Linked DNA regions of Homo sapiens: region 1 is linked to region 2. Evidence: fine-mapped expression QTL. A gene starts in region 2. The other region holds a variant in brackets. All regions are shown on one strand. Distances are between the middles of the regions.

Region 1 (12,376 bases), 55 kb after region 2:
GCCTTTGAGGGGAAATGGGATTTTGAAGGCAAGATTTGGGCACTGCGATGTTGATTGCTACCAGAGTGACACTGCGTCTACGCTTTTTCAGGGGTCAGAGCTAGGGGAGAGGGAGATAAACCTGCACATACAAAATAGATTCCTTATTTGGGTTAATTTTGATATATCCAAATAAAATTTAATATCACAGGGCTTTTTAGTTTTAGCTCTTTATTTTCCTCTCTTACTAAACATAAGAGCATATCAACTTTTTGTTTTATCTTAAAATACACACAAAATAAATTTAAAAACTTAATACCAATATTACCATTAACAGTAAAACTATTGAGTAAAACTTAAGGCTTCTCTTATTTCTTTTTAAACTAATAGCTTTATTGAAATGTAATGCACATACTATATAAGTATACTATTTAAATGGTACTGCTTAGTGGTTTGTAAGATATTCGCAGTTGTGAAACGACCACTATCTAAGAACGTTTTTTTTTTTTTCTTTTTGAGACAGAGTCTCACTCTGTCGCCCAGGCTGGAGTGCAGTGGCACAATCTTGGCTCACTGCAAGCTCCGCCTTCCGGGTTCACGCCATTCTCCTGCCTCAGCCTCCTGAGTAGCTGGGACTACAGGCGCCCACCACCACGCCTGGCTAATTTTTTGTATTTTTAGTAGAGACGGGGTTTCACCATGTTAGCCAGGATGGTCTTGATCTCCTGACCTTGTGATCCACCTGCCTCGGCCTCCCAAAGTGCTGGGCTTACAGGCGTGAGCCACCACGCCCGGCCTCTAAGAACGTTTTTATCACCCCAAAAAGAAACGCCACATCCATGGGCCATCACTTCTCACTCCCACCTCCTCCCAGCCCCGACAGCCGCTCATCTACTTTCTGTTTCTGTGATTCACCTATTCTGGACTGAAATTTCTTTTTCTCGTGGACTGCACCCCACTAAAGCTCTGTGGTCTGAACATACACTCGCGGCATGTAATGATCTCCTTTCATTAACACAAGAGGTTCATTTGTTCTGTTTGTTTCCAGTGTGGTGGTCTCTCTCTTCCCCTTTTCAATTTACTTTTTGTTTTGTCTTTTTTGAGAGTCTTGCTCTGTCACCCAGGCTGTAGTGCATTAGTGTGATCTCAACTCACTGCAACCTCTGCCTCCCAGGTTCAAGTGATTCTCATGCCTCAGCCTCCCAGGTAGCTGGGATTACAGGCCTACACCACCACACCCAGCTAATTTTTGTATTTTTAGTGGAGATGGGGTTTCACCATGTTGGCCAGGCTGGTCTTGAACTCCTAACCTCAGGTCCACCTGCCTCGGCCTCCCAAAGTGCTGGGATTACAGGCGTGAGCCACTGCATCCAGTCCCAATTTACTTTTATTTGTCATATCTGTGAAACATTTGCAGGGTTCAGCATTAACACTAAAGAGAGCATGGAGAAGGCTGGCCTGGAGCCCGCCTGCACCCATTCCTTCCCCAGCAGCCACAGTTGTGTTCTCTGTTTTGGATTCATCTTCCTGTGTTCCGTTACACACGATAGGCCAATACACATAAACCTTTCTCCTCTGTCTCATTCATGAGGCAGTGTCGTATGCATGCCGCCTCTTCCCTAACAATTTAAGTGAGGTTTTAATTTGATTATAGACATGATGGGTTTAATTTCAGAAAGTTTGAAAACTGCAGACAAGACAGAGAACCACACGGTAGAAAAATTCAAAGGTACTAAGTCTGGAAAGCAGGCCTCCTGCCCGACCACGTTCACTGTTGCCCGGCTTCTCTCCTGAAGCAGCGGTTAGTTTTCTCGGAGCAGGTGTGTGTGTGCACACATCTCCCTATAGCTGTGCTTCTCACTTTCCCTTCACACACAGTCGTGTAGTTTTGCGCTTGCTTGATTAATCTCTTGGCCTCAGTCGGTTTTCTACCATATGGAGTTGGTTCATTCTCTCGAATGGCTGTGTAGTCCAGTGTGTGGGTGCAGCTTAATTAAAGAATCCCCTATTGATGGTCATTTAAATCCTACTGTATTTTCCACTAGGGTATGTGCATTTTCAATTTTCACAGACATTGCCATGTCTGCATTATTTTTAGCAGCCTCTTAGTGGCTCATGGCAGGGAGGCACCGTGATTTTATTTCCCTGTTGTTGGGCTTGTTTGTGAGACCTGTACTCTGCAGGCTGCAGTGCTGTGATGAATATCCTTTAGCTAAATATCTGTGCACATCTAATGATTAGTGACTTGAGAAAAGTGCCTTGAGGTAGAATCGCACATCAGAAGATACGGGCACATTCGGAATGTTTTGGATAGAGCCCCTGGTGACTTTATCAACGAGTGTGATTTACATTCCTACTGGCAGTAGATTAAAATGTCTGTTTCCCAGGTCTCTCCAGCATCAAATTAGAATTTTAATCAGGTTACCTTTTTTCCTTTTTTTCTTTTTCTTTTTTTTTCTTTTTCTTTTTTTTTTTTTTGAGAGAGGGTTTTGCTGTCACCTGGGTACCTGGTGCAGTGGCACCTGGTGCAGTCCTAGCTCACTGCAGCCTGGAACTTGTGGGCTCCGGCAAACCTCCCATTTCAGCCTCCTGAGGAGCTGGGACCACAGGCATGCACTACCACACCTGCTGATTTTGTATTTTTTCTAGAGACGAAGTCTCACTATGTTGCCCAGGCTGGTCTCAAACTCCTGGGCTCAAGCAATCCTCCTGCCTTAGCCTCACAAAGCGCTGGGATTACAGGTGTGACCCACGGCACCTGGCCCATTTTTCTTGTTAATTTGTGAAGAATGGCAACTAGATTTTAAATTTCCATGCGTTTGTCTATTTGCTGTGTTGATTTGTCTATATGTATTTACTGGTGATTTTTCATTTATATTTTTGGTAGCTCGCACCTACCCTAGCCCATAGTTCCTTGGAGATGTTAAGTTATTGCCCTACATCTTAAAAATACTTGCCACATTCCTGGTTTCTAGCATAAGACCCTTTCCCGCCAGTCCTCTTTGTCTTGGAGACCACTGATAGACCTTTATGATAGCCTGGGTGAAAACCCAATGCTTTCTGCGTAATGGAGGCCACAGTCCACGTAGAAAGAGCTCAACCCTGGAGCTCAGATAATGGTTTAAAACCTGCTTTCTAGTTACTGTACGTCTCAAAGCAAGCTAGGGCCTGGCCCAGTAGAGAGGCTCTGGTGCCTGCTTCTGCCCAGGGGCTCCAGGGGTGTGTGCAGCGCTGGCATCATAGGAAGTCCCTCGGCAACTGGCATGTGTACCCAGCGGGCTCCCTGTGAGTGTGCACCCTGTTACCTCGTGAGCTCACTGGGGCTCACATGGCTTGTTACCATCCCCACCTGAAGGCCAATCCGGTCCTCCGGCCTGGGCTCTGGGAGATTGCTTACCTCCTGGAGAGTTCCAGCACGAGCTTACACTGCCGTCGCCACATTTTGCCTCTCAGGGAGCCGTGGCAGGTTGCACGGTGGAACCGGAGTAGTATAGAAACTTGCTGATATCAGCCGGCACAGAGCAGGAACACGCTAAAAAATTAATGTCCGTGTGCACCCACAGTATTCAAGAGTTTTCACATCATTGTCAGAATACTGTGTAATGAAGAAGTTATAATATGTTTCTCCTTTAGTCCGTATAAACTCAATGCTCTAGAAAGATTAGATTCCAGATTTCTATTAGAACTACTACTATAGCTCGCTGCAGTAGCGCCCGCCCCCGCAAGAGCAGGGAAGATAAGCCTTTAATGTTGTTGGGGTTTCAGAGAACTATGAGATGCGTGAAAACACATTGAGGCTAATTCTGCATGCGTTTACATTCTGAGAGGAAAACCCCTTTGAGAGAAAGCCAGGTGAAATCGTTTTTGGAATGAAGTGGGGAGCGTGGAGGCTGCTTGTGGAGTGGTGTTTCCACACCGAAACCCGGAGACCTAAATAGGGCGCAACCTGAACTGAAACCGGCAGGACATGGCTGTGTGCGTTAATTGGAACCACAGCACCTCGGGTGAGGGAGGGTGTCAAGTAAGCCTGCGAGTTGCGAATTAGAGGACCCAGGAGTAATATTCCTTTTTTCACAATTTGGGAAGGAGCACCCGGGAGATGGACAGACGGAAATGGAATTCCAGTGTGATTACTGATGAACTACTGTTGGATTGGACAGGGGCTCTTCACACACACACACACAAACACACACACACACATACCCCAGCCCCCCTCCCCACCCCAGGCCCCTGTGGCAGCCTGGTGAAGTCTGTGGACCCAGCCTTACAATTTGCTTTAAATACGTAAAATAAAATACATAGGATCCCAAAGGCCGTTGATGATACTGAAGTAGAGGAGCGGGGGCTCTGCTTGACTCAGCGGTTAGCTCAGCGTGGGTGGGGTCTGATGGCTGCCATCCTCTCGTGTGAGTTGTGGTGTGTGATGTCATCCCTGTGGGGTCACCTGTGGCAGCTGTGGCCACCATGCCAGGCTCTGTGCTTCCAGATGCGTTTGCTGCCTACACTGACCATCGAAGGAAATACCCATTTCGGTGCAAGGCTGGCAGAAATAAACACATAACTGTTGAACCATCCCAGTTCACAGATCTCCCCGCCCTCCCACCTTCTCTCTGTGGGCCCCTAGGAGGTCTGTGGACCCCAGGTTGAGCACCCCTGTGTTAGGGCATTGGCCCAGCAGCTTTCTGATTAACGCCACCCCACATGAGAATGCCCCTCACTGCCTCAGGCACAGGCAGACAGGAGTTGGGCTGTGGGGTGGGGGCTGAGCTCCTTCCTGGTAGAAGACAGACCAGACCTGCTCCATCCTCTGAAGGGACTGAGCCCTGGAGGCAGGTGGAGCAGTGTCCTCCTCCTTCCAGCTCAGCAGTCCAGGGAGCCCCCTCCTTTCTACTGGGTGGGCGAGGCCGCTGAAGCCTGAAGCAGGGACAGCCCCTTCTACCCCAAGACGCTCTTCAGTTGTGTGTGTTTTGCTCTCAGTAGGGTTGTTGAGCAGCACGGCCTTAGACTGGTCTTTTATGCCTCATAAAATACCATGTGTTGTGATGCAGTATTTTGAGCTGGACTCCGCCGTTTCCGGCTCACTCTCCCTGGCAGCTCTGTGCTCCCACGACCACCCTGCAGAGGAAGTGGGTATCTGAGCTCTGATGAGCGGGTGCAGACTGTGGGTTGGTGTCAGCCCCTGTGCTCTGGGCTTGTGTTGCTGCCCATCAGCCTAGAGAAGAGGGTATCGGGTTTACCCGAGGGAGACGGAAACGCAATTCTCACTCCAGCAAGGTCAGCGACAGCTTCCTGCGCAGTGGACAGGCATGGGGTGAGCCAGTTCTGTCTTCTGAGGTGGTGGCAGGAAAGGGGGCTTTGGTCAGAGCCGGCACCATGTGCTGCAGATCCAGGCAAGGAGCCACTCGGGCTCCCGTCGGAGCGCGTCCCTGGCCAGGGGTGCAGTCGGAGCTCGGCTTTCTTTCTTGGGGCCACAGTGGAAGCCCAAGCTGGGCAGAGCCCTCTTCCTTCTCTCCCCCACTCATCTCATCTCTTAAAAGTAGCTGCCAGAGCTGAACCCTGAGCGCCCCACAGGAGGTTTTGCTGAGGGCTGAGCTGCTTTTGCAGTGCCTCTAATGACCTCTTCTAAGCTTCCTCATGTAGAAAGCTCCACTTCTTTCTGGACAGACGTTTTCTAATTGATCTATAGGAGGATACCGGTTGGGTTCTGAGTTTTACTTAGGTTTAACCAGAAGCTGGGTGGTTTAGTCTTCAAGAGACAGACTTAGCGCATGCTTTAGCCCAGTGTTTACAAGAACTGTGCCACCAAATAGGATGAGTGAGGCTGTCGCCCCTTGGCTGGGCTGAGCTGGAGGTCAGCCGGGTCTGACGTTCACCGCAAGCTTCTCCTGGGGGTTGCAGGCAGGCCAGAGCTGGTGTGCCTCCCGCCACCTACCTGGTCTCTTCCTGAGCACAGCATCGCTCCATGCTGTCTGTCCCACGTCCCTGTCGTGCAGAAAGAGAGCCCAGGCTGAGCACAGGACACACTCCTCCTGGAGCCTGCGCAGGTGCGGATTTTCAGTGCAAACCGGCTTTCTCTTCTTGCTCTTTCCACAAATACTGAGATCGAACGTGGAAAGTTCAGTGAGGAAATCACCAGGAAACAGGTGGTAATTGTGAGTTTGGAGGGCTCATTTTCATCAAGGTTCCTGATTTCTTGATAGGTAGAGATAACTTATGTAATTGTAGAAAGTAACATATTCTCTGAACAGTGCGAAGCGTAAAAGCAAAGCCTCGTGACTGCCTGTCTCTCGCTTTACCAGGACTTTCTGAAGACCTTTTCCCCCGATGTCTTCCGGTTCTTCTGCCTGCGGAGCAGCTACCGCTCAGGTGAGCCGAGCACACGTGGAGTGGACTCCCCCCCCAGCTCGGAGACAGTCATTCTGACAGGACTGAAAACAGCAAAATGCAGGCCAGAGAATAAGCAGAACCTTGTTGAGTGAGGCTGCTGTGTGCCTTACGGTTCGGGTTGAGAGTGAACCCAGAGGACGAGGGATCCCAGTGCTGGTCTGGGCCCGGCCCACAGTGGATGTGGGCTTCCTCGTCAAGCTCGAGTCCTCTCCACTCCTTCTCTCTGGGTCTGGACAAGTCGTGAACCCGCAGCACCTCGGCTTCCTGCTGTGTGAACTGGGAGATTGGAAGGGGCCAGCCTGGCACGGCCCCTGAACATGGGAGCCCTCAAACGTGACCCTGCCTGTCCTGCCCAGGGGCAGCACTTCCCCGAACGGTGTGTAGCAGAGCAAGGTCTCCTGGATGGGTGATGACGGTTCCTCCCATGCTGCACAGTTACCTGCTGCCCCGGGCTAGGCTCTTGGCCAGGAGTTGTCTAGCACTGGCCTGGCATGGTGGCTCACGTGTATGATCCCAGCACTTTGGGAGGCCGAGGCTGGCAGATGTTTTGAGTCCAGGAGTTTGAGACCCGCCTGGGCAACATAGTGAGATCTTATCTCTACAAAAAATACAAAAGGCCTGGCACGATGGCTCACACCTGTAATCTCAACACTTTGGGAGGCTGAGGCAGGTGGATCACTTGAGGTCAGGAGTTCGAGACCAGTTTGGCCAACGTGGTAAAACCCCATCTCTCCTAAAAATACAAAAATTAGCCAGGCATGGCGATGTGTGCCTGTAATCCCAGCTACTCAGGAGGGTGAAGCAGGAGAATTGCTTGAACCTGGGAGGCAGAGGCTGCAGTGAGCCATGATCATGCCACTGCTCTCTAGCCTGGGTGGCTGAGCAAGACTCCATCTGAAAAAAATACAAAAAAATTGGCTTGGTGGCATGCACCTGTAATCTCAGCTACTCAGGAGGCTGAGGCAGGAGAATCACTTCAACCCAGGAGGCGGAGGTGCAGTGAGCTGAGATCGCACCACTGCACTCCAGCCTGGGTAACAGAGCAAGACCCTGTCTCAAAAAAAAAAAAAAAAAAAAAAAAGTCGTTATCCAGAGCTGCATCCCTGGTGGCAAGTGAGGGCTGGGGACAGTGATACTGCCCTGCCTGGCTTGACCACCTAACTGGCAATAAGGTCCCAGTGTATGGCTAGTGCTGCAGGAGCAGGGCCAGTGTCCTCTGGAGATGGTGACAGTTCCTTCCTGGTGAGCGAGGGTTGCTGTCCTTCTGGCCTCTGGTGTCCCCTCTGCTCCATTGACACTGCCGAGGCCCTGGGTCGCTGCTGTTGTCATGCCACCTCCCTCTCCCCCTTCTTGTCCCTCCTACGTAGCTCTCTTGCTCCAAATTGATGATTTCACCTTTTTAATGAAGACGATGGGAGTGGGGACATGCAGCCGAAACATAGTTTATTCTCATTCCCCCATGGGGTGAATCTATCTGGCCAGCACACTTTATGTCACACACAAAGCTTTGGTGGGTTTGGGTGAGCCCCTGGGCTGGTCCCCTATCCATCTCCCTCCCCTGTGCTGTGCCTGCAGAATTTCACCCGGCCTGCAGCTCCTGTCAGCGTGAGAGGGGCACACAGACACCTGCACCTTTGACCACCGAAAGGCTACCTTGGGCCATGTCTTTATCCTGGCTCTGACGCCACGTCGTTGGCTTTCTACTGCAAACTCAGGTTTTCTGAGACGTGGTCTGAACCTCTCCCCTGGGTGGAACTGCAGTGCATCGGCCCAGGGGACCTGCGCTCACGGGCGCACGAGCTTGAGAAAGAAGTGTGGCCAGCCTCGTGCTCGCCTGGCCTCGTGCAGCATCTGTGTGTGGTGTGCACTTACGCGTGATGAAAGCAGCCCAGCCGTGCCGTGAGAGGAAGAGTCGGGGAGGCGAATGGGCTGGAGAAACTGTTTCCGCCTGGCTCCGTGTTGCTGGAAACGGGCAGAGGCGGCGGAGATGAATCCCGTGTGCGAGCGCAGAGCTCTCTTCCCGGCTCGTGCTTGCTCCCCTCGTGGCTGGGGGCTGTGGTCCTTTCAAAGCTGTTCCCTGCGGATCCCTTCCCAGGGGCACTTTGCCCTCGGAAGCCCCGCCTCCCTTCTCGCAGATTGTGGCAGGATTAGGGGCAGCATCTTGTATGACTGTCCTAATTGTGTGCAGTTCTTTTTGAGCTTTGAATACGAAGTTTGGTCTGAAAAGAGGCTTTCTCAAGCCTGGGCAGCTCTTTCAGGAACACATTCCCAGTGGGAATTTTGGGTGGGATTCAGGAGGCACCGATCTGCCAGTGAGGGATTTCTAGGAACACAAGGTTAGTCAGGACGTGGATCCCCACAGTGGACACGACTGCCCCACCCCGCCGAGGTCGGAGGTGGCCTTGAGGAGCTGGGCCGTCGCTTGCTGTCTGAGCTTCCATCCACGAATGGTGTGGGAGTTCGGGATCTTCCCAGACATTCTTTCTTCACCTTTGGGAAGATGGAGGGGGACGGTGGTGGCATCCCTTGCAGTCTGTGCTGCGCTGACACTTTGGAGAAG[T/C]GTCTCCCATCTGTAGAGCAGAATCCTCTTTGGAGAAATGCAGCTGTCCTTGACCTTGAGGCAGAAGGCGTCTCCATCCTGGGCATCTGTCTGCCCCTCCCCATCTGGATGCCTCATCTTGCTGTGTCATTAATGGTAATCTTATTCTAACAGCCTCCCATGCATCAACTCTATCAGTCCCCGAATATTATCTTTAAATTTTGTCAGATCGCTTTGTGGGTTTCTGGCTTTTTCTCTTTTCTATCAAGCTATTCAAAGCAAAAACTGAAAGTGAATTTAGAAAAAAAGGAAAAATGTTAAGTAAGATATTAGACAGCCCTGGGGGAGGTTTTCACTGTGTTGCTTCCAGCTTGAAGCCATGTCTGATTTTGGAATTCTCGTTTTGAAGTCAGGACTTGGAGGCATGTTGAGATGTAATTTTCAGCATATGTGTCCAGATAGGCTCTTTTTATTCTTGTGGTTTTCAAAGAGCTGTTTAAAGCAGCACTCCTCAAAAGCATGGACTGTGGACTCAGACAGCCTGGGAAACAGAGTAGGCACGAGAAGGTTCTAGAAATATGTGGCTGGCTTTGCTGATATCCAAGGATATGTGATCATTGCAAAGCGATTCACTCCTGTTGTCTTACCCATCAGAATGCAGTAGACTAGAAACCACAAGAAATGAACAGATGTAAACAGAAACACTGGCCCCTCATCCAGGTGGCCTAAGAAACACCCACAGACTCTAAAGCCAGGTCTGGGGACTGCTCCTCCCTCCCTCTTTGGGCTGTCCCATCACACACAGGCACTTTCCCTCGGGAGGGCCTTCCCTAGAGGTGCCTCTGACCCCAGGGCGGGGCTCCCTCTTTCCAGAGCTAGCCATTCATCCGCACCTCCATCCATCCAGGGCGGGGCTCCTTCTTTCCAGAGCCAGCCATTCATCCGCACCTCCATCCAGTCAGTGGAAATGCACCTCTTGGCTGGAAGCACTGGGAGCATGTCTCCACCGCCACCTTGTTCTCCCACGGCAGGTGCCACTGAGCTGGGACAGACCCTGTGGTCTGTGTCCAGTGGGCCTAGGGACTCGCGGTCACTGGAGGGCGTGAGAGCCACATGTCCCGCTCTCCGTGTGGTCCCTGGGTGGCAGTGCCCTCAGAAAACACTGATTCTGCTGGACCAGGGCAGGGGCACAGCATGGTGGGCACCGCCTCAGTGACCATCTCTTCCTCCTCAGCCATCGACTACAGTGACAGCGCCATGCTCCAAGCTCAGCAGCTGCTCCTGGGGCTGGGCTCTTTCCTGGAGGACGCACGTGCCTACATGAAGGGGCAGCTGGCCTGCGGCTCCGTCAGGGAAGCGATGCTGTGGGAGAGGTAAGAGGCCCGCCTAGCACCCGGCGTGGCACCCCTCCTGTGGCCTGCTGGGTGCTGCTGGTGGGCTCTTGAAGGGGAAGAGGGGCCCCCAGGAGACAGGGCGCTGGACAGGAGGTTTGGGGTCAGGGACTGCCCAGAGAGGCCCCAGGAGACAGGGTGCTGGGCAGGAGGTGCAGGTGTGGGGTCAGGGGCTCCCCAGAGGCCACAGGGGACTGGGAGCTGGACAGGAGGTGTGGGGTCAGGGGCTCCCCAGAGGCCACAGGACACTGGGTGCTGGACAGGAGGTGTGGGGTCAGGGGCTCCCGAGACATCCCAGGGAGACGGCGCTGGCAGGAAGTGTGCCTGGGGCCCTCGGGCTCTGAGCCCCCTGCTCAGAGTGGCTTTGGGCTCGGGTTCCCTGTGCGAGGAGCGGAGCTGCTCATCCCTCCCAGTCCTGACTGTGAGGAGCCAAAATCTATAAAACACACAGGCCTGGGCCCACAGCATCGCCTCCACTCCCCACCCACGGGTGTCCTGGGCAGCGCTGCACATTCATCCCGGCATGCAGAGTCTTCCGGATGGTCTTGGTGATAACCCACCCCTGCCACTTCAGCAGGGTAGGCAGCCAGTGGCCACGGGAGGCTGAGATCCGGGAGCCCCGGGCTGGGCCTCCCCAGCCTCTCTTTGTGAGTGGTCAGCCGTGCCGTCTCTCCCCCACCGAGTCTTCCTTGCCACTCCCCTCAATATCTATTGATTTTTAAAACCATCATGAAAATGCCCACGTGTGTCTTGTATTTTAAGTGTCACAGGTGACCTCTGCTCTGGGACTTTTTCTTGGGGTAACATGACAGTTTGCAGTTGATGTTACATAATTTTCTGCTACTCAGGAACTCAAGTCTTTGGGAATATGACCTAGAGAAAGTCCCCAGATTAGAGCCCCCAGCGTCTCTCCCTGGGGAAGGACTGGTGTGGGGGCCGCCTGGGGAGAGTGGAGCTCCCTCTGCTGTGACTGTTCTCTCCTCTTCCCTCAGGCTCTCCAGCACCAAGAGGGCCGTGAAGGCGGCCTTGGCAGATGATTTTGACACACCCAGGGTGGTTGATGCCATCCTGGGCCTTGCACACCACGGGAATGGACAGCTCAGGGCGTCCCTGAAGGTAGCTCAACGAACAGGTGGCCTTGCGGTCCTGCTGCCAGGGGCATGGGTCGGGTCCTCTGGTGGGTTTTTCTCATGTCGGCTGGGTGGCATCTCTGCTGATTTCGCCTCCCGCAGCTTCTGTGGAGGAACTCATGGAGCCCGAGTCTGCCGCTGACACACGGGATGGCACCCAGCCTGGGGCTTGACCCTCCCGGGCCTCAGGGCCACCTGGGGAACAAGCTCTCAGGAGCCCCTGAGGCTGAGAAATTCTGTGTGCTTGATCCTCAGGGGACACATCTCATGTCCCCACTGCATTCATGGCCCTTTCACAGAGAGAGCTTTTGTGGGGAACTTTTTAAGGAAAGACCCATTTACCCCAAGGCACTGTTATGCAATCTGCACCCCAGTGTGATGACCACACCAAGCACCCAGGGGTCTGAGCCTGGACTCGTGGGTCACTGCAAGTGTTTGGCAGGTGGGACAAAGACCGTGAAGGCGGCGGCAGGCTTTGGTTCCTGCACGTCTGAGGGTCCCCTGCCAGGCCCTGGGAGGCGCTGCGTCAGGAGCCCCGTGACCTTTGATGACCCGGGAAGCCGAGGCTGTTTGTGCCTCTCCCACCTCTGGAAACACCTGGGGGTTCTGGCCACATGCTCTGTTAGTTGAGCATCTCTGTGGAGGTCTCCATCCCTGGCTGCGTGCAGTGTTGGGTTTCAGAGCACCAGCAGGTGGGGCAGGGTGCCATGTGCCCTTGCCGGGTGCCTTCGGTCCAAATACTGCAGACGCGCAGGGCTCGCCTCTGAGGGGGGCGGGCATTTGAGTCACAGCCGGCTGCAGGAACAGGCTGCCCCGCACTGAAGGCAGCCAGGCCGGGCTGGGGCAGGTCCCGCAGCCAGGCTGCTCCTGCACGGGAGCTCCTCCTCCTCAGCCCGTCCGCGGCCTCCTGCCTTCACCGCAGCTGCTGCCGGCACTACCAGGCTGGCCCA
Region 2 (12,376 bases):
CCAGTATTTATAGAGTAGATTATTAACCGCAGTGGTGCTCATTCCAGGGCCCTGCCGGGTATTTTGTGCTATGGATGTGAGTACGGCAAAGAGACTGAATTAAGCTGTTTTGTATTTGGAATCGGATTGTTCACGTTGCAACGTTGCTGCAATGATAAATGGATGGATACTCTTTACACTTTGAAGTGGATTTAATCTTCACTTTTAAGCCCCTTCATCTCACCTACACAGCAGGAGAGCTTTGGCTTTGATATTTGGGGAAATGGCTGTTATTTTACTTACAGATCACGCTATTCTAGTCTTGGCCTAGTTAAAAGCAAATGAGTACTTTAGTTTCTACAAGATTTATTGGCCACTACTTGGTCTGCACAAAAGACTATAACACTTGGCCGGACGCGGTGGCTCACGCCTGTAATCCTACCACTTTGGGAGGCCGAGGCGGGCGAATTGCCTGAGATCAGGAGTTCGGGACCAGCTTGGGCAACATGGTGAAACCCTGTCTCTACTAAAAATACAAAAAATTAGCAGGGCATGGTGGCGCGTGCCTGTAGTCCCAGCTATTGGGGAGGCTGAGACAGAATCACTTGAACCTAGGAGGGGAGGTTGCAGTGAGCCGAGATTGTGCCACTGCACTCCAGCCTGGGCGACAGAGCAAGACTATCTCCGGAAAAAAAGAGAAAAAAAGACTACGACAAGATAACATTATGTGGAAACAAACATTATGTCGAATACAGAGTATAGAGGGAGTACAAAGTTGAATAAGGAAAATTACGCCTTTCCCTCAAAAAGCATATAAGTAATTTAAAAGTACAATAGTAAGAAATAGACCGGTTCTTCTATTCCTAGCATTCATTGGCTCTAGAATGAATAGTGTTTATCTGAACTCAAGAATAAAATTGGAAGTAATTTACCCTTTACAAAGATAAGATGGAGTTTAACCTAGGTTTTCTTTTTAAAAAAAAAAATCACAACACAGTACAATCTGAGTAATGATTTTGTTCCTCTAGTTATGTACTCTCTTCACATACACATAAACCAAAAAGGCATCTTAAGCATTCAACAAGGAATATTGACGAGTGTCTACCATGTGCCAACTACTGGTCCGTGCGCTGGGGATACAGTAGTGAAAAGTTTTTTGGAGCTTTACATTCCATAAAACTTTTAGCCCACCCCTTGGGATAAAAAGTCAAAAAAGATTTTATCTTTTTTGGAACAAACTTAGAAGATCAAGCAATAAAACATAATTACCTTTGATAACGAATTTTAAATGTCATTGAAGAAAGGTGCTTAATTTTGAAGATACGTTGAAGAATCTTGTCTCTTTCAGTTTTGTTTCCTGTGGCGTGTTGCAAAAATGGATGTTAAAACTTTTCCGTAGAACAGAAATTTCAAATGGATTAAAAAGAAACATTTAAAATTAAACTTTTTTCTAAAATTATATTTCCAGTCTAACTGAAAATGCTCAAACCTATGAGAGTCAGATATAAGAGATGAACATATAATTCTTTTTCTTTTTTTGAGACGGAGTCTTGCTCTTGTCACCCAGACTGGAGTGCAGTGGCGTGATCTCAGCTCACTGCAACCTCCGCCTCCCGGGTTCAAGCGATTCTCCTGCCTCAGCCTCCTGAGTAGCTGGGATTACGGGTGCCGGACGCCATGCCCAACTAATTTTTGTATTTTTAGTAGAGACGGAGTTTTGTCATGTTGGCCCAGGCTGGTCTCGAACTCCTGACCTCAGGTGATCCGCCTGTCTTGGCCTCCCAAAGTGCTGGGATTACAGGCGTGAACCACCGCGCCTGGCCAAGCATAGAATTGTTTAAGTTTCAAAGTGCTTAAAAAATAAATGCAAACTCATTCATCTTAAACTTGAAAACCCCTAAACCATATGCTACCGTAATCAACTCTACTTCTGATTTACAAGATTTTGCCTTGAAAGAAAATGTAATACTGAGAACTTGATTTTGTTATTGTTGTCATTAAGGACTGAGAAATGGCATTAGTGATATTTTGGAATCATTAACTTTAACACACTTCCTCGTTCTGACCTAGATTGGAGAGGGAGGTGACTTCAATTAAATGGATCCTCTTTTTATGTATATATGGTGTATTAGTCAGGGTTCTCTAGAGGGACAGAACTAATAGGATGGAGATATAGATATATATAATGTATATACATATATATGTTTATTAAGTACTAACTTACATAATCACAAGGTCCCACAATAGACTGTCCGCAAGCTGAGGAGCAAGGAGAGCCAGTCTGAGTCCCAAAACTGAAGAACTTGGAGTCTGATGTTCGAGGGCAGGAAGCACCCAGCACAGGAGAAAGATGTAGGCTGGGAGGTATAGTAATGAAGAGCATTAGCAGTCTATTTTACTTTACCTTAATATTCAACCTGCAGATATTCAATATGCAAAAAGATCACATTTCTAACCATCATTAGGTAATGAGCTATGTTTCTCCTTGTTTTGATGATCCGCAAAAGCCTTAAGAAAACAGAATTAGCTGCCGGGCACGGTGGCTCATGCCTGTAATCCCAGCACTTTCAGAGACCGAGGTGGGCGGATCACCTGGGGTCGGGAGTTCAAGACCAGCCTGACTAACATGGAGAAACCCCATCTGTACTAAAAATACAAAATTAGCTGGGCATGGTGGCACATGCCTGTAATCCCAGCTACTCAGGAGACAAGCAGGAGAATTGCTTGAACCCGGGAGACGTGAGAAAGAGGCAGGAGAATCGCTTGAACCCAGGAGATCACGCCATTGCACTCCAGCCTGGGCAACAAGAGTGAAACTCCATCTCAAAAAAAAAAAAAAGAAAAAAGAGAAAAGAGAATTGGCCAGGTGTGGTGGCTTAGGCCGGTATTCCCACCGCTTTGGGAGGCTGAGGTGGCTGGATCACTTGAGGTCAGGAGTTCCAGAGTCCCAGACCAGCCTGGCCAACATGATGAAACCCCATCTCTACTAAAAATACAAAAATTAGCTGAGCGTGGTGGCACGCACCTGTAATCCCAGCTACTCGGGAGGCTGAGGCAGAAGAATCACTTGAATCTGGGAGGTGGAGGTTGCAGTGAGCCGAGATCGTGCCACTGCACTCCAGCCTGGGTGATAGAGTGAGACTCTGTCTCAAAAATAAATACATAAAAATAAAAATAAAAATGCAAAAATTAGCTGGGCACGGTGGTGTGCACTTGTAATCTCAGCTACTGTGGAGGCTGAAGCAGGAGGATTGCTTGAACCAGGAGGCAGAGGCTGCAGTGAACCCAGATCAGGCCACTGCACTCCAGCCTGGGTGACAGAGCAAGACTGCCTCAAAAAAAAAAAAGAAAACATAATAGAATCACTGCCAGTGAGGGGCTAAAAACATTACATGAATTTTCTGAAGACAGAAGATACTATTGTTAATTTAAAAGTTGTGATGTTCTATGAACAATTCAAATATACCGCATGTCCAGATTCATGTGCAGATTTGATCTTCAGTGTTACTAAGCTGCTTTCAGAATCTCTGCTCCAGTTATTTCCTTGAATTCGTGTGTTCTCACAGATTGCAACTGAGCTTTTTGTTAATTTGCTTTATTTACTGGCACATCTAATATCTGAATCAGCTTTATCAGGTATTTTACTACCCAGATTTCTTCCCACCTGCACAATTAATCCCTTTCGTAAGGGATTAATTCATCAACATTCAACAAGCCCTTTTATTTCTTCTAAATTTTTTTTTTCCAGCCACAGCAAAACAAAACAAACAAAACCCAAGTCCTTTTCTGAATTTAGTGCAGGGCACAGTGAGAAGTTCAAAATAATGTACAATTTAAGATACTCAGGGAGATAAATATACACACAGCACTGGAAAGTTACAAAATAACATAAGGCAGGCAAGAAGTGATAATATTCAGGAGAATTTAGAGTAGTTAGGTAACATGAGTGGTTAGCATTGATGTAGGCTATAGGGTCTCCTAATTCTAACATTTTAACCTTATTAAATTAGACAATAGATTACATTAGACTACAGTTAGCTTGAAACAGAATTGCAGAGTTGGACTCCAGGATATTGAGAAACTACTCTAGGTACACACTTGTTTGTCTCTACTTAAACCTTTGCTTTTTAATAAAACACCAAAGCAAACTAAAAACAACAACAAAAAACCAGAGGAACGTCTCCTGTTTTGAGAACTGGAAAAGCAAAGGGGACTTTTTCTTTTTTTTGAGACATCGTATTGCAAGACACCAATAGAGGCACTTTTTTTTTTTTTCAGGCGGAGTCTCCCTCTGTTGCCCAGGCTGCAGTGCAGTGGTGTGACCTCAGCTCACTGTGAGCTCTGCCTCCTGGGTTCAAGCGATTCTCTTGTCTCAGCCTCCCCAGTAGCTGGGACTACAGATGCACGCCACCACGCCCGGCTAATTTGTGTATTTTTAGTAGAGACGGGGTTTCACCATATTGGTCAGGCTGGTCTCGAACTCCTGACCTCAGGTGATCCATCCGCCTCAGCCTCCCAAAGTGCTGGGATTACAGGTGTGAGCCACTGCGCCTGGCCCAATAGAGGCACGTTTGTCAAGCTATTGTGAGTAACTTTCAGAATGTTTTTGTTCTCAAGATACGGGATCATGGTGGGGGAGGCATGCTGTGTATTGGAGTGCAGACATGGTGTGTGTTGGGTTGCACACTGTGTATTGGGGTGCACACTGTATTGGGGTGTAGATGTGTGGGGGCGCACACTCTATTGAGGTGCACATTGCATTGGAATGCAGACAGTGTTTGCTGGGATGCACATGTGCTGTGTTGGGGTGCACACTGTACTGGGGTGCAGACATGGTGTGTGTTAGAGTGCACAGTGTATTAGGGGTGCACACTGTATTGGGGTGTACACTGTACTGGGGTGCAGACATGGTGTGTGCTGGGGTGCACACTGTATTGGAGTGCACACTGTATTGGGATGCTGATGTGGTGTGTGCTAGGGTGCATACTGTGTATTGGGGTGCAGACTGTATGCTGGGTTGCACACTGTGTATCGGGGTGCACTGTGTTGGGATGCTGATGGTGTGCTGCAGTGCACACTATTGGGGTGCAGATGTGTGTGCTGGGGTGCACACTGTATTGGGGTGCACACTGTATTGGGATGCTGATGTGTGTGCTGGGGTGCATACTGTGTATTGGGGTGCACACTTCTTGGGGTGCAGACTGTGTGTTGGGTTGCACATTGTGTATCGGGGTGCACTGTGTTGGGATGCTAACGGTGTGCTGCAGTGCACACTGTATTGGGGCGCAGATGTGTGTTTGGGGTGCACACTGTATTGGGGTGCACACTGTATTGGGGTGCTGACGTGTGTTCTGGGGTGGACACTGTGTATTAGCGTGCTGACGTGGGCTGTGCTGGGATGCACACGTGCTTCGCTAACAGGCCAGGGCCCGGCAACAGAAGCTTGCACTGTAAACGCTCCTCCCGCGCGGCGGACACAGCTCCAGGCTGGTACCGCGCGCACACGGACGCCTCGCAGGACCTGGGCTAATAAGGAGAGGAGATCGGCACGGTACCGCCTCTTCCCACGGCCTCCCGGCGCGGCACCGCCCTCCTCCCTCCACCCCGGGCCTTCCCCGCCCCAACCTCTTCGGGCCCTGGTTCTCCACCCTTGCCGCGGGCGACTCGAGCCAGGCCAAAGGGAGGCGCTACCTGAGGACTGCTTCCGGGAGTGGGCGTGGCCCCAAGGGCGTGGGCGGGGCGGGGCGGGGCCGTGCTGCTCTTGAGCGACCGGCAGCGTACCCGGCGTGGCTCCCGTCTCCGCCCAGTCGTAGGCGCTGGCCGCTGACATGTTGAGGACTACGCGCGGCCCAGGCCTGGGCCCCCCGCTGCTCCAGGCCGCGCTGGGCCTTGGGCGGGCTGGGTGGCACTGGCCTGCGGGCCGGGCGGCGAGCGGGGGGCGCGGGCGGGCCTGGCTGCAGCCCACGGGCCGGGAGACGGGTGTGCAGGTGTACAACAGCCTCACCGGGAGGAAGGAACCCCTAATCGTGGCGCACGCCGAAGCCGCCTCCTGGTGGGCCGCGCGGGACTGGGGCACGGGCGGGGGCCGATCGTGGCGGAGACTTCCCACGGCTGAACGGGATCTGGGCTCGGGGAGGGCGTTTAGGAAGCTGCATGGAGGGCGCCGTTCTAGAAGCTGGGGGTGCGCGGTGCTTTTGCAGGTTTGGGTGTGAATTGAGCAAGTATGAAAACCCCGGCTATTCATCCCCCAGAAGTGATTACTTTAAAAATTATATGATCATTATAACTCAGAATCGAATGTCCTTTCTTGCAAATATGTTCCACACGATGGATTTTAACTTTGTTTCCAGGTATAGCTGTGGACCAACTGTATATGATCATGCGCACCTTGGCCATGCTTGGTGAGTTTCCTGGATTTGAATTTTCATACTTCAAAGGACCATTTATTTTTGAAAGCCTTTTGCTGATTTCTTTTATCTCTTAAGTGGCAACTTAGGGATGCAGAATAATTCCTACATTCCAGGCATTGTGGGAAATGTTACAACCTCATTTGGTTCTTATAGGGATTCTGAGCACTTACACCCGTTTTACAGGTGAGGAAACTCAGGGAGACAATGGAGCACTGAAAAATGACCCGTTTTGGAACTAGATGTTTTTTGCTGGGTTTAGTGACATCAAGAGGCCTTTGCGGGGTCCCGGGGTCCTGCTGATCAGTCATTCCTGGGCCCCACCACTTCTTAGCTTCACAGCACTGAGCAGGTCACTTTATTGCTTTGAGTCCTGGTTTCTTCATCTTTGAGATGGGAATGATAACTTGGATCTTATAACAATTTTAGTAAATAATGCCCATAAAATGCTGCTTAACACTGTACCTCACATGTGAGATGTCACGGGGCTCAATAGTGATTGAGTAACTTTCCTAAGATGACACATTGAAGAGGTATTGGAACTGGGGTGAGGCTTGGTTTCTCTGACTGCGAAGTGGTTGCTCTCTTGACCTCTTTAACTGTAAGATGTACTGCCTCCTACATTTGCCAAAATTACCACTTTTCCTAATATTTTGTACATTTCCAAAATATAATGTACAAAAATGACATATTATAGATTTTTTAAAACTTAGTATTGTTCAGTCCTAGACTAAAAGTAAAAAGTTACATTTACTCTGTATACTTTTTTTTTTTCTTGAGACGGAGTCGCTCTGTCGCCCAGGCTGGAGTGCAGTGGTGCAATCTCGGCTCACTGCAACCTCTGCCTCCCAGGTCCAGTTGCCGCCTCCTGGCAGCAATTCTCCTGCCTCAGCCTCCGGAGTAGCTGGGATTACAGGCATGTACCACCACGCCCGGCTAATTTTTGTATTTTTAGTAGAGACGGAGTTTCACCATGTCAGCCAGGCTGGTCTCGAACTCCTGACCTCAAATGATCCACCTGCCTTGGCCTCCCAAAGTGTTGGGATTACAGGCATGAACCACCATGCCCGGCATACTCTGTATACTTTAAATATACATTTTTCCCCTTTACTTTGGGCTAACATACTTTTAATTATCAAAAGCATATTTCGACATCTTTCTTGAATTATAAAATATGTTGGGGAAATATTAAAAACAAAACCCCCACCCTGGAAAACCTTTCCACAAAGGTAGAAGAGAAAGAAAACAGTTCTGTTACTGAATAAGCCTTAAACCAGAAGGGGATGAGCTAAAATAACTGCAAAGACAGAAAGAAATCTCATCCTTCTATGGAGCTTTGGGGATACAGCCTGTCTCAGTCTATGAGTCTGCTGTAACAAAATATCCTAAAATGGATGACTTATAAACAACAGAAATTTCTTTCTTTCTGGGGCTAGGAAGTCCAAGATGAAGGCACCAGCAAATTTGGTGTCTGTTGAGGGTCTGCCTGCTGTGTCCTCACATGGTAGAAGGTAGAGGGAATTCTCTGAGGTCTCTTCTATGAGGGCATTAACCCCAGTCATGAGCTCTCTGCCTCCATGACTTTGTCACTCCCAGAGGCTCCACCTCCTAAAACCGTCACCTTGGGAGTTAGGGTTTCAACCATGAATTTGGAGGGAAGACAAACATTCAGACCATAGCATAACCCATTGCTTCAGGTGAGTTACAGTGTGGAGTCAGATGACAAGGTAGGCCCATCTCCTCCCAGGACACTGGGAAACGGGGCGTTATTTTCCTTGATTACATTTCAGAGGTGGGTCCCAGGTTTTGAAATTTTCTTGAGTTGTAAAACTGCCAAGAGGTTTATTTAGCCATTTAAAAGATTGACATGCATTTGAAGAGGACTGAGGAAGAAATCCTAAAAGTTGTTGGGGAGAGAATCTCTTCTCATTTCCAACTAGGAGAGTCAAGTCTTGCAGTTTAAATTTGTATAATATTTACCTTTATGACTACAGAAAAGAATACACATCTTAAGTGCGCAGCTGAATGCATGTTATAAGCTGTGTCCACACAGGGCCTTCCCAGGGGCTGGTGGGAGCTTGGGACTCTCCTGTTGACCACCTTCCTGTCAGCCTGGCCAACCCCTCCAGGCCTTTGCTGGGCTGGCCTGCCCCACCTCCCTCTCCCCATCTCAGCTCTCCTAGCATTGTACTCCTTCAGTGGTTATTTATGCAACCATCTGATGTCGTTAGCATGATGTAATTATTTCAGCTCCAGCAGGACAGGGATGCACACAGTGCCTGCTGCAGAAAGGTAGAATTTGAGCAATGGGTAGCACTCAGTTCACTGGAAAGAGACACCCTGAAAAATAGCCTCCACCATTTCCAGAAGAGGTCAGAGGGATGGAAACCCTGTTTGGGGAAAACAAATAGATCAGTTTGGTGCTAGGGGGGAGGAGCAGGGGAAGGGATGGGGCGTCAGTTGCAGCCAGACTGGGGAGGGTGCTGCGTGGTCTGGCCCAGAGAGTTTGGATTTCATGCCATGGTAGACGGAGTCACACTGGAGCGTTTTGAGGGAAGACTCTTAGCAAATGAATCATTTCAGCGATCACCCAGATGAGCACACTCACCCAGTGGATGGAGAAAATGGGGCAGAAAGAGCCGGGCTGACGGTAGCATGGTTCATGGTGGAGTCACAGAAGCAAGCTGAGGTCTCCTGATGCCATGTTCTTCAGACTTGGCTGCCCGGCACTTGCAAGGCGTGTGTGTGCGTGTTTGTGTATAGAGTGGCCCCTGTGGTCACAGCCTGCCTGCAGCGTCTCAGGGTCTCAAATTGCTCATGACCCTGCATTCCGCCAGCTCTGCCAAGCTGTGGAGCCTCTGCTGTCTCCAAGGGCAGTTCCGGGACTCAGCCTGGGCTCCTCTGGGCCAAGCAAGGGACTTGACTCTTGTTTTCATTTGCTTTAGGTTCCTGTAATTTTTTTCTTGTAAATCTCACATCTTTTAGACTCTTTCCCAACTTGAGGTGAATGAAGGAGCATGGTGATGAGAATGGTAATAATAGCTTGTGTTTTTAGAATTCATGCTGCACAGGCGGTAAGGCTGGACAGCAGTCCTGTTAGGTGGTGGGATTTTGCCAAATTTATAAGCAAGCCGACTGAGCTGTAAGAGGTTAATTATCTTGTTGAGTTTTGGAGATAGTTTTGTCCCTGGAATCAAGATTTGGTCTCAGCTGTGTTTGGAGAGGGAGGGGGTGTGTGGGAGGTTAAAGTGATACAATAACATGGCTAGGATTCCCCCACACCACCCTAAGAGAAAACAATTTTACGAACTGAAATTTAGGCCACATGGATAGCAGAGGTGAGTGTGACATTAGATAACCTTGAGTTTTAAGGTAACTTTTATGGGAAAACAGATTCTTGAGATGCTAAGTAGATTTTAAACCCTTTTAGTTTTACAAGTCTGAATTACCCCAGTGTAGTATATAAATAAGCTGGCATTTTTAAATATTCTACACTAGTGTGTGCATTCTTAGGAGTAATCTTATATGGCTTTAATGGGATCGTACTTGTTTTGATTTGGTATTTGCTTCTGTTTTGTCATAGTGAAAAATTAGAATTACTCTAGAACATGAACAAGAATGGTGAAAACACGATCTTAACTGAGAGATTGTATTATGAGTGAATTTTTATACAATTAAATAGACTTCAACTCACTTAAGCAACAACTCCAAAATTAAAAATGCTAATATTGTGTCCTGAAATTGATGCAATACCTTTGTCAGTTTCTCCTGAGAACCCTTGTGGCGCAGGCCCTGGTGCCATCAGTGAGAGGGAGTTTCCTTGTACCTGCTCCGCTGACCTGTCCATTGTGCTACACAGTAGAAGTTATGGAGCAGCATGTTAAAATGTAATGGATTTTTTACAAAGATAACTGATGACTTTGTGTAATAAAGACATCCTGACACTTTTTTTCTTTCAGCTCATATGTTAGATTTGATATCATTCGAAGGATCCTAACCAAGGTTTTTGGATGCAGCATAGTCATGGTGATGGGTATTACAGATGTAGATGATAAAATCATCAAAAGAGCCAATGAGGTAAGTGGAGAAGAGTTACATCTATTGATAATGCCATTGATTAGTGTTCTGAGCCCTTCCTGAAAGTGGTTCTTGGCCGGGCGTGGTAGCTTACGCCTGTAATCCCAGCACTTTGGGAGGCCAAGACAGGTGGATCACTTGAGGTCAGGAGTTTGAGGCCAGCCTGACAAACATGGTGAAACCTTGTCTGTACTAAAAATACAAAAATTAGTCAGGTGTGGTGGCGGGCTCCTGTAATCCCAGCTCCTCAGGAGGCTCAGGCAGGAGAATCGCTTGACCCTGGGGGGGCGAAGGTTGCAATGAGCGGAGATTGTGCCACTGCACTCCAACCTGGGTCATGGAGACTCTGTCTCAAAAAAAAAAAGAAAAAAGAAAGTGGTTCTTGTTTGCATTTTACAAGTAGTTCTCACATCTTATTGTCCATGTGTGGCCAGTGGGTGTAATCTGAGACATGAAACAGTGCTGGGTTAGCAGGGTTTCTTTGGTGCCCTAGTAAAGGAAGTTAACATCTATCGTATTGTGATCGCTGAAGGCTTTTCTGTGGCCTCGTGTCGTTACCTCCTTCTGTGGTCGTCTCCTGGCTCCAATCTTACTCCCTCCCCTGGCCCCTCGGCCTCCAAGGGAAATGACTTGACTTTCTCTTTACTGAGGGAACCAGACCCACTGATTGGACGTATTCATATTTGTGCTAATGATGCCTTTCATGTCTGTGTCTTGATAGTTTAAAAAGTACTTTTTGTATCTATTAGTATTTCAGTCTCAGAACAACCCTGTGTGCTGCGCAGAGCAGACCTTATTGTGCTTTTTTTAACACATTTTATTCCATATTAAAAAATTATTTGAAGCGATTTGAGATCTACAGAAAAATGACAAGAATAGTACAAAGATCTCCTGCAGCCACCCTGGGTTTCCTCGTGGCCATTGTTGGCTGCGTTGGGCCATCATCTTCTCTCTGTTCTAGACTTTTCCCACCAGGCCGCCTCCCCTCTCTGCACACGCCACGCGTGCCTTCAGAGCAAGGTCACTGGCTCTCGAGGCCCGCACAGCCCTCCCAGTCAGGAACCGGACATTGATGCAGTGCGCTGGTGTGGGTGACATGGACGTCAACCCCAGGTGTTGTCCCTGTCCCCGAGCGCCTCTTTCTTTTCTGTTCTAGAACCCCTTCCAGAGTCCTGTTGTCTCCTCGGTCTCCTTCAGTCTTCAGTAGTTCCCTGTCTCATGTCCTTGACACTGTCAAGGATTGTAGGACTTTGATTTTGTAAGGTGGCCCTCCACTCAGGTTCATTGGATGTGTCCCCATCTTGCAGAAGAGTCAAGAGGTTAAGGTGATCACATCTTGAGGTTGCACAGACCTTCAGGGGCAGGGCCACTCCCACAGCTCTGACTTCAGCTATCTCTGGGCAAGTACCCCTGCCAGGTGGGAATGGCCTGCGCACTTGTGGCGGGTAGCAGAAGTCTCTTTCCCGTGCAGGCTGAGGGCCCCACTGGAGTCTGGCCCACACCTGGAGTGTGGTGCCTGGCAAGCTTTGGGAAGACACAGTGGATGAGGTTGTACAGGCAGGTGGGACATTGGAGGCGCCTCCTCGGGCTCTCCCTGTTGGCTGGGGGCCAGTGCCCCGCACATCACTTCTACCGGAAGGGCTTTGGTGGGTCCTTTGACTTTAACTGCTGGTGAGGAAGACTTTTCCTAAAGAAGCCATTCTGATGAAACGCTGTCACTCTTTGCCCCACATGCTGTCTTGTGTCGGCTTTCTCCATTGCGGGTGCTTCCTCTAATCACCATTCTCTCTGGACATTTTTGCCCATTTTCACAATTCACTGTGGTTTAGCATACAAGACAGTCTATTCATTTGTGTGTTAGTTAGGATGACTGGCTATTTCCTTTTCCTGAATCTGATGAAGGAATTTAAGTA

The links. PIP is the estimated chance that this variant, and not a neighbour inherited with it, causes the effect.
Region 1: its variant is fine-mapped to the expression of CARS2 in whole blood (TOPMed, PIP 0.95).

What each region holds. Positions count from the first base shown.
Region 1 is chr13:110,645,003-110,657,378 of GRCh38, reverse strand. CARS2 (cysteinyl-tRNA synthetase 2, mitochondrial) reads left to right here. Exons shown (of 15, transcript NM_024537.4): 10 at 6,279-6,345; 11 at 10,140-10,278; 12 at 11,289-11,412. Among named protein-coding and RNA genes, the nearest start is that of NAXD-AS1, 35 kb to the right of the region's middle. RefSeq lists silencers at 3,859-3,918, 3,959-4,048 and an enhancer at 7,792-8,291. The variant T/C (reference allele first, on the strand shown) is at 8,927.
Region 2 is chr13:110,699,525-110,711,900 of GRCh38, reverse strand. CARS2 (cysteinyl-tRNA synthetase 2, mitochondrial) reads left to right here and starts at 5,785. Exons shown (of 15, transcript NM_024537.4): 1 at 5,785-6,031; 2 at 6,330-6,380; 3 at 10,346-10,463. The coding sequence starts at 5,808. RefSeq lists enhancers at 4,858-4,977, 4,988-5,367 and a silencer at 5,418-5,977.